Homo sapiens: one gene and its partner. The protein of the gene in region 1 interacts with the protein of each later gene in a biochemical or structural test. Each region holds a gene or a part of one and is shown in the gene's direction. Other genes may lie near its edges.

What was found. The genes of interacting proteins can lie anywhere in the genome.
Region 2: the proteins of KCTD12 (region 1) and GNG2 form a complex in vitro, tested with the Homo sapiens proteins (one study listed by BioGRID).

Annotation. Positions count from the first base shown.
Region 1 is NC_000013.11:76,879,675-76,883,170, reverse strand, and holds the end of KCTD12 (BTB/POZ domain-containing protein KCTD12), read left to right. Parts: 3' UTR 1-2,996; downstream 2,997-3,496. UniProt on the Homo sapiens protein: Auxiliary subunit of GABA-B receptors that determine the pharmacology and kinetics of the receptor response. Increases agonist potency and markedly alter the G-protein signaling of the receptors by accelerating onset and promoting desensitization.
Region 2 is NC_000014.9:51,961,578-51,968,628, forward strand, and holds part of GNG2 (guanine nucleotide-binding protein G(I)/G(S)/G(O) subunit gamma-2 precursor), read left to right. Parts: intron 1-4,981; coding exon 4,982-5,110; 3' UTR 5,111-7,051. UniProt on the Homo sapiens protein: Guanine nucleotide-binding proteins (G proteins) are involved as a modulator or transducer in various transmembrane signaling systems.

The DNA of each region.
Region 1 (3,496 bases):
GAATCATTTAGTTTTTTAATTCATTTACTAATGCTATAAAATTTCCTATATTACCCCAGTAATTTGCATCAGCTGGTTTATATACTAAAGCAACATGTTTTGATGAGTTTCTTACATCCTTATCGAGGAATTGGGTTAGGAAAAAATACATAATTGTAAAACTGAGTTTGCTGTATTATACTTTTTTTCTTGAGTATTAGTTGTATTACTAATCATATGTTGATTAACTGTCTACTTAAAGTCAAGGTACCTGTATTTTTAATCCACTAATTTTTTTTTAGTTGGGAAATAGATTTCAGGTCTTTTATTAGACTAACATTTTTTGAGAAGTAAAATTGACTTCATATACAAAGCCTGTAATTTTAGGCGAAATGGAAGCAGAAATCTAGGAAGTTGTGCTTGCTTGTATGTTGAGTTTGGTCTCAGACTAAGTAATGCATCAGAATTCATCTGTTTGAAGCCTGAAATAATTTAGGACTCTGATTCACTGACCAAAAGTCAGTGTTGCAGAGATTTCTCTACCCCGTATGGTATTTTGTTAGATTGTTCAACAGGAAGCACATGATTGAGAACATCTTGGGACAGACCAAAACCACTGACAGATGGCAAGGCTCGGCGATTCTGATTTCCCTTCTCAAATCTGCTCAACTCCAAGAGTCTTGAGAAACTGCTAAAATTTTGCCTCTGTCACTCAAGTCTTACAAATGTTATCTTGTAAACCTTTGAGGTGAACTATTCCACTGTCTTGTACATAGGCATCTTATTCACTGCACCCTGTCACACCCAGCACCCCCCGCCCCGCACATTATTTGAAAGACTGGGAATTTAATGGTTAGGGACAGTAAATCTACTTCTTTTTCCAGGGACGACTGTCCCCTCTAAAGTTAAAGTCAATACAAGAAAACTGTCTATTTTTAGCCTAAAGTAAAGGCTGTGAAGAAAATTCATTTTACATTGGGTAGACAGTAAAAAACAAGTAAAATAACTTGACATGAGCACCTTTAGATCCCTTCCCCTCCATGGGCTTTGGGCCACAGAATGAACCTTTGAGGCCTGTAAAGTGGATTGTAATTTCCTATAAGCTGTAATAGTGGAGGTATTGTGGGTTCATTTGAGTAAGCCCTCCAAAGATACCATTCAAATAACCTGGGAGAATGTCATAAATTATTCAGATAATTAACACTGCATGAATCTGATTCAGAGGCATGCATTTACATATGTTGCCCTAATTACCATTTGATGATCATAAATACAAGTGAATGACATTGGACTTTTAGTAACAAACTTAATTTTTAAAAAGGTGTAGACAATGGTGGTTAAAAAAAAAAAAAAAACAGGTACCAGGTTCTGTGTGTTTGCACCAAGTAATTGACATGTTTTTTAATACATGTGGACCATGAACAGTATTCATTCTACTTTTTCAAATGATATGCTGTAGAAAATATTCCTTGAAGATGTGAGATTTAAAAATTTTTCCCTTTCAATGTTGTTATGTATTCTACTGGTTTTTGATTGATAGCACAGTGATAAATCATAATACTAGACAAAATTGTCTTCTCTTTCAAACCAGAGCCATATATATGTCTGTATATATGGGACCTACTGCTTCTCTGAGGAAATGCATAATCTGTTAATATCAGACAAAATGAGCAATTGGCAGTGCTCATAATATATTCCAATTTTTATTGGAATTTTCGATGGAATGTTATTTCAATAAAGCCATGTAAGGTGAAACTTTGATAACTTTTTACTCTTCAAGTTAGGGTAAATTCTGATCCAATATTCAATTCATTTGTGTACTCCCACATGCAAAATGCTAAATTACAATGCAGACATTAAGAAAAAGTATTGACTGGAGGGGTTGAATTCCTTGAGAATTTATTTTATAGTCTAAATCACAAATACTTTACTCAATTTAGTTTTTAAAATAGTAAACTGAATATTTTTGTTGTAAGCCTATCAGAGTCAATCCTTCGTTTGGAATTGTTTTCCTGTTTTTCCTTACTATAAATCATTTAAAAACTGAATTCATTTTCTTAGATGGCATAAGTCTGTCTCTTGAGAAATAAGTAAAATACTCCTATTTTCAGTATCTGTAGCACCTGAAATAGGTCTTTGTATAGCCAGAAACAAGTTATGTTGAAGTTAGCTTTTCTTTGTCAACAGTTTTGGACAATAAAAATCTGAAAGTATTAACACTTGATTTTCTACTGGGGCCCTTCAAACTTGGTTGGAAGAAATTCAACCAGAATATCTACATTAGAGTATAATCATGTGTGGTAGGAAGATGGACTAGTTAATCAAGATTTGTTGTCACTTAAATTTTTTGTGATTTTTTTCCAAGCCAGTTTTTTTAAATTCTAAATGTGTTTTGAGGTATGGGTACATTAATTGTAATGTAAACTATTATACAACTGTTTTTGCGACTTTATAGGCAGGTAAATTTTGCTATTACTATTGAATACAAATGACAATTCATTTATGACCACTCAAACAGCGTTAGTAACCATTTAGTGACAAAGGATTAAAACATCCATCTGGATGTTAATTTTGAAGATGTAAATTATATGTTGTTTAAATTTTTCCAGGCATCTGAAAACCTTATCTGCTAGACAATGTAAGATTCACACAGAGTTATCTGGGATTCTGATTTTTTAAATAGTACATATCATTAAACCATTTTCTCTAAATGTAAGAAGAGCAGAAAAAATCTTATAAGATTATCAGATTTTTCTAATGACACAGAAATGTAAGAAAAAAATCCCTTTATATTGAAAAAAGATGCAGTCAAAGTCTTTTCAGACATGCCCAAACTTTGAGAATTTCTTCAACCATCTAATGCTATAAAGATTTTTGTTCTTCCTGTTCACAACCAGTTGTATAACAGAAATACTAGCTACTGTTTTCCTTCCTGTGTGTGAAGTAATGAATCATTGATTATGTGACTTGTTATGTATTCAATTAAACACTAAAGAATAAAACATTCACTCCTTTAATTATTCCTCTTGGCTCCTTGGCATGGATTGGCTTGAACACTGGTCTAATTTCATTTACGGGGTTCTCTAAATACTGGCAACACTTCCCAAATTATTGTGGGACTACTGCTGAGCATTATGCCATCAGAACTCTTCACCAAGGAACCGGCCAGCAGGACCAAGCACAAATAGCTTCTTTCCCCAGAGTTTATTGTCAAGAATGCCCAGGCGGTCTGGTACTTAATATGGAAGAAATGTTTTTCACAAACATTTTCTTTGACTTCTCTGCAGCATATGCCACTTGCTGTGTATAGGGACAGGGAAATAGAAGCTTCGAGATGTGCTTTACTTAAAAGTACAGTTCATGAGAAGGTTCTAAAAAATGTTGGGAAAGAGGAGCTGCATTTTTTGATGTGGGGGCACTTTACTGCCTCATCTCTAGTGGTTGATGTTCCTCCTCTCTAAAGAAGGCACAGTGCTGCTAAGATTGAGAAATCACAGAAACAAGTCGTCTGGGTTAT
Region 2 (7,051 bases), on another chromosome or scaffold:
ATAATTTCTGTGAAAGAGAAGAATGTGAGAAAGTACTCTGAGAGAAAATAATCAGGAAAGTCACTGTGGATGAGGCGATCAGTGAAGGTTCTGCAAGGAGGTGGTATTTCTGCTGACTTCTGAAGGAAGATGATAAGCCAACCCATTGAGGAGATGAAGAGAACAATATTCTAGGATACTGAATATGTGACACTCTGAGGCAAAAAAGAACTTGGAGCTTTCAAAAAGTAAAGGAGATATTTGAGAGGGAAGAATGCTACAACATGAAATTGGAGAGAGGGGGAGGCCCAAAACATGCAATACCCACAGGCTGTTTTACAAAGTTTTGGTTTTCTACAAATTACAATGAGAAGTTATTGAAGGTTTTAAATAGGAGAATGATAGGAATCCACTTGTATTTTAAAAATATCTTTCTAGCTACAGTATGGAGAATACTACTCCTGCATAGTTATGAACACAGGAAATCATTTAAAACTGAGATAATTAAACATTTTTGTGCTCTTGACTCATTTGTCTGTCTGCTCAAGCCTATGGTCTCCTTCTTAGAATCATGTTTTTAAATTACAAAAGAAACTAATTATATTGACATGAGGGTCATTAGAATATTTTTGTAAAACATTTTAAATAATATTATTTAAAATATCAATTTTTAAAAATATATGTGATGTAGTTATACATAGGTACTCCTTTGTTAACTGATTATGTAAGATCTAATAGGTCTACAATCATAAGGTGGATGAACAGAAATGCAGTGTTGAGGTGTCTGCAATGAATATAATGTGATTGAAAGTATCTGGTATCTATCAGTGGCCAAGTCACATGTACTGCTAGGGCTACTGCAGTGTGTTGTCTATATTTATAATGAGAGGAAATGTTAAATTTCCATTTGAGGTTAGTGAAAAATAAAGATGTAAATTTTTTGTATTATTTGAAGTTCACATACCACCCCCCGAATTCGATCTGTGGAACCCTGGGGTAATCCAAATTAATTGCCTTTATTTACAAAGTTATTTTAGTAATCACAAAGAGAGAAGACTGCAGTATGAACTGGGGTAGCTGCAATAGATATAACAGGAAGGGAGCCAAATTTGAGATATCTTTGGAGGAAGAATCAACAGGACAGAAAAGGGAGAGATTTTCTGGAGTTATTGGGGAAATCTTCATGGAAGAAGTAGGCATACGAATGTAGAAGAAGCTGTGTGCAAAATGTTAGCAGGGATTGTCAGAAAGCAGAAAGATCTGCTAGGCACACGATTGCTGTGACTCATTATAAGGCACAGGACAAGGAAGACAGCCACAGGTTAGAAAGGAGGAATGTTCATGAAGATTAAGTCAGGGACATTGAGACTCACAACTCAGTAGCTCAGGAGCTGTGGGACCTGGGGCAAACACTTAATGAAGCCTCCACTTCACATATTTAAGATGAGAATGATAATAGCTTGTGACCCATAATGTTGTTGTAAGGATTAAATAAGATACCGTATGTAAAGTGGTTAGCACAGTTCTGACACATAGCAAGGGCTGATAAATATTAGCAATTATTCTAATTACTGCTGGGATTCTGACACTGTTGGAGCATTGCCCACAGGAGATTGCAGTCTTGTTGAGGAAACAAGATAAAACACATAATATATTTTAAGAAGGAAACCATTCAGAATCAAATGTTCAAATATAAAGATATGAGCAGCTCTAAGTTATTAAATTTTCCTAGTATAGTACTTCCTGTATCATAAAAAGATTTTGAATATTCATGCTACATAGTTGTATGTGAGTGTTGCAAACGGGTAGGGATGAACGGTGCTGCTTCTCCTCGTAACAAATGAGTTTTAGATATCACTGATTTACTGTCTCCACTGCCTAACAGCTAAGCTCCTGTTTGGTGTAACAATGACTATCGCTCAAACAAGAAGAAAGAATGAAGAAAAAAAGTGATCTCAATTCAGTCTGAAAGTCTGTCCTTTGTTTTCATGTGGGAGAGCTAAGACATAAACAGGCTGTTTCCTTTCATTTTGTCATAGAAGCATTTCATAAAGAATTTCAATTTCAACCTTTGGAACAAAGCCCACATTTGAGTAGTTTATATGCAGATGGCTGTGGCTTAATGGCAACACATTCGAGTTCAAGTTCTTTTTCTGCTGTGTGCTTTGCTCTATGATATTGAACAACTTATATAATCTGCTGAGCCTCAATTTTTCATCTATAAAAAGAGGATAATAATTCTTACCTCAGGATTACTGTGAAGATCAAAAGAGGAAATTTAACTCAATGTCTGGAACAAAATAAGGATAAAATAAAAATATTTTTGTAAGTACTGTAATGTCTATTAAAAAGTGAGACTGATTTTTACATACATATCATGTATTGGGTTGACTAGTGTCCCCTAAAATTTATGCCCACCTGGAATCTTAGAATGTGGCCTTACTTGGAAATAGGGTATTTGTAGATGTAATCAAATTAAGAGGAATCATACTGGATTAGGGTAACTCTAACTGGTGAGATGGGAAATTTGGTCACACAGAGAGGAGAATGCCACATAAAGACACAGACACTCAGGAGAGAATTCCATGTGAAAATAGAGACAGAGATTGGAGTGATATGTCTATAAGCCAAGGGATACCAAAGATTGCCAGCAACCACCAGGCACTAGGAGAGAAGCATGGAACAGATTCTCGCTCAGACCCTCCAGAAGGGACCAACCAAGCTGATGCCTTGATTTCAAACTGCTAGTCTCTAACAGAATAAATTTCTGTTGTTTTAAGTTACCCAGTTTGTGAGGACTTGTTCAAGACAGCCAGAGGAAACAAATACACAAACCAATACCTGTACCTCTTTGTGTCAATTAGGGTTGGCTAGATGTTGTGGTAGTAACAGAAGGTGCCCTACCCTTCATTCTTAGGGGTTTGCAATAGCACAGTCACACTTCTCACTCCTACCATATGTCAATCATAAATCAGCTGCCACTCCACACCATGTCACCTTCATCAGGGATGCTGGCAGATGGAGCAGCCTCTGTCCAGAATGTTGCTTCTATCTGTTCTGTGGCAAAGGGAACAGAGACCCCAAAAATTCAACGGTTTATGGGATGAGAAGAGGAAACTGATTTCTCTACCCAACCAGTAAATCATAAAGTTGAAGTAGCCTTAAGTAAAAAAGGCCAGGCACAGTGACTTACACCTGTAATCCCAGGACTCCGGAAGGTGAGGCGGGAGGATGGCTTGAGGTCAGGCGTTCAAGACCAGCATGGGCAAAATAGCAAGAACATTTTTGAAAAACCAGCTAGGCATGGTGGCATGCACCTGTAGTCCCAGCTACTCAGGAGGCTGAGGCAGGAGTGACAAAGCTTTAATCAACTCAGCCCTGGGACAAGAAACAAATCAAGGATATTGCCACTATGCCATTTGTTAAAACCTCTGCATCAATTAAGAGGGTTCCTCATAAATTATTTCAGTCGGACGAAGTGGTATAGAGGAAGGGACATGGCAAACTGTGCATTGGCTCCTAAAGTTTCTGCCCATAATTGATCCACATAAATTCTGCTCACATCTCTCTGGCCAGAGCAAGCTTATGTCACTGGGCAAGTCTGATGTCATCATGTGGGCATGTATGTCCCACTTGTAGGAAGGGGCAGTGACTATCTTTAGTAATAATATAATTCACCCAAATCTTAAATTAGATTATCCTTTCAGTAGTTGCTTTGATATCCTTTCAGTAGTTACTTGACAGGCGTTCGTAGTAGTACAGTGGTGTTGCTTTCATGTGGAAATGTGTTATTTTATGTAAAAATTTGACCCCAAATGGCATTCCCCAGGTTGATCATTTACCTAGTCCCCAGATGTAGCTATAGATGACTTTTAGTTTATTTCCTGAAACTAAATCCACGCTCTAATGTAGTAAAAATTTCCTCTGGTGAAGATGGTTGAAGGAAGGTACTACAGGGAACTCATAACAAGCAGCTACAAATATGTTGTAAGAAATGACAGCATCGCCAGAATCAGTGACGACCTCCCAGTGAAATATCACTAAAGGGCACAATGCTTGGTTAAAGTCACAGGTATAAATTTTAATATATATGAAGTATAAAAATATGTTCTATATAGTGTGTGTATACATAGATATATCTCCTGCTGCATCTGCTTAAAAAGGGAAATTGACATGGTTTTAGGCATCCCTAGCACAATTCCTGAAGCAGAGAGTCACGACTACAAAATGATAATAATGGCTAGCCTGTGTGGAAAGCTTGCTATGTGCCAGACACTAAATGATTTACAGGGATTTTTTCATTTAACCCTTGTTACCAGGGCTGGGACCAGGGTGGGGCAATGAGATATCGGAGCACAAAAGTGAAGGAGGGCCGGGCACAGTGGCTCACGTCTGTAATCCCAGCACTTTCGGAAGCCGAGACAGGTGGATCACTTGAGTCCAGGAGTTCAAGACCAGCCTGGCCAACGTGGTGAAACCCTGTCTCTACCAAAAGTACAAAAAATTAGCCAGGCACCATGGCACACACCTGTAGTCCCAGCTACTAGGGTGGCTGAGGCAAGATAATTGCTTGAACCCAGGAGGCAGAGGTTGCAGTGAGCCAAGATCAAGCCACTGCACTCCAGCCTGGGCAACAGAGCGAGACTGCATCTCAAAAAAAAAAAAAAAAAAAAAAAAAAAACAAATGAAGGAGACAGCCACCTGCGGGGCTATGGAAGTGCAGGGTTGACACCTGCATGCCCCTGCCAGCGAGTGCCTCCTTCGGTTCTGCACCCTAAGTGCCTCACTCACCTTAACCTAGTCCCAGACTTGCTGGCAACAATCCTGTAAGGTCAGTGTCGTCAACTTTCTTCTTTGCAGATGAGGAAGCAGAAGCTTTTAGAGGCTGAGTATCTTGCTTCATGGAGCAAGGATTTGATGCCAGGACATTGGGCTCTAAAGCCTTGGGCCTTGACTGACTGTACCAGACTCCAGTGTTGGTTGTTTTTGTCTCCCTTTCCAGGTGTCCAAGGCAGCTGCAGATTTGATGGCCTACTGTGAAGCACATGCCAAGGAAGACCCCCTCCTGACCCCTGTTCCGGCTTCAGAAAACCCGTTTAGGGAGAAGAAGTTTTTCTGTGCCATCCTTTAAGTCTTTGAGAGGGGCCTGAAGAGCCTCCGGGCTCCTGGGACATTGATGTAGAGTTTTTAGTGAAGTGGGCACCTTTCTAGTCCACGGCATTTGAAGAGAGCGAGGAGAACCATTCTGGAAACTCTAGGCTATGCATGTTTAAAGATCTGGTCCCCTTTATGAGAATGCAAGCCGATCCACATCCTGACTTAAGAGATCTGATTCTGACGAACTGCCTGGAGGAGGGGAATATATAAAAATAAAATTGGTGTCACTTCTTTTCTGCTATCCCCCAGCCCCCCCCCCAAAATCCTCATGTTTCTGCTTCATATTTTGAAAAATAACAATTAAAACAGACAGCTGTACTGAGGTAAGATATGTGTGACCTTCTTGGAATGAATATTGTCTTTAGAATACCCTTTGATAAGCTGAGCTGTCCCGTGTAGATGCAATTCGGTTTAATGGCATTGATGTATAGTCACTGTGCCTTTCTTTTTCTTTCTTCCTTCTCCTCTACCCCTCCTTCCACCCCTCCCCATTAGAGTAGTGTGGAGATAAGGCTGGACTGGTCTATCAGATTGAACTCCAAGAATGATCACACAAAATGTTTAGGGAGATGTTCCCCGTGGTGTATCCTCATGGTAACAACGACAAAAAATGCCGGTTGTCTGTGTTCTCTTTTCACTATTCCTAACATGTGTACATGATAGCTTTGATTCTGCAAGTAAAAGTAAATCCTGTGTTGTGACTGGTGCTTTCATATATTTGTGACAATTTTTGAGTAATATTGCATGAAAATGTCCCTATGTTACATCCATTCAGAAGTTTTGTTGTTTTACTCTAAAGCTGGGAAAGGAAATGAGAGGGAAAAGACCCCGGAGAGGGAAGAAAATCTCAGTATTTTGAAAATTGAGATTACTTCAGAGCCTTAGCCACACCTAAAATACCTCCTAGTTAATAGTGGTATAAATGCCTCTTCAATACGTTTTCCAGAATCCAAAGCATTTTGGTTTATCCAGGACCCAGGGCAGCACAGCTGTCACCAAGCAGGAGAGTTAAGGATTCACCATGAGCTGGGAAATGCTTTTGCCATGAGTATGAGCAAATTCCCTCTTTCCCTGAATCATGGACATTCTAGATTAAAAGAACATTTTTTTGTGCTCTTAACAAGAAAACCATGGCCCTCCTTTGTTCAAGTATCAGAAGAAATAAACCCACAGCTCCAGAGAAGGTGACCATTCTCAGAACTCCAGCTATTCACTCTCCAGGGAGAAGGACCTCAAATCGCCACTCTTTGGGCGGCAGGTGCGGTCCCCACGGCCGGCTCTACGAGGAAGAGTTCTGGCTCTTTTGTCCACTGAGATGGTCTTGGTTTTTCACTTAACAAATTTTTTAATGGAATCTTTGTTTTTGTTCTCCATCTTGTTTGTTAGAGTCTCTCGGCCTTTATTTACAAATTCCTTGCAACTAGAGCGCTCCTTCCCCAAGATATGGTAGTGAGAGTAATTTTTCATTGTAGCTGTAGTCTCCATCAGTAACAGCAGGCCCTGGAAGACTTGATCACCTTTTTCTGTGTCATTTTCAGTCAAAGAGGGCCTCTCTTACATCTTGTTTGCTTTCAAATCCCCAAATATCATCTCCATCTCCCAATTAATTTTATTGTCTCTTTCCTCTCTATTCGCTTTCTCCTGTTTTTTTTTTAAAAAAAAAGCATGAAAAAGGAAGAGAAAAAGTTTGATATGCCAAGGACAGATTTTGAAACAGACTTGGTAAATGTTTTCCTTAGCTCCTTCATGGGCATGCTGGTGAAAGAATAAATACATCCAATTAAAGCTCATGCTGGGGTCGGGGAGAAGAGGATACTGAAACATTTGTGAAATGTATGAATGCACTTCTGTAACCAGATACTTCTGTTCTTCTGTTCAAATTGTGGGGTTTTTGTTACAGTTAGGACGCCCATGA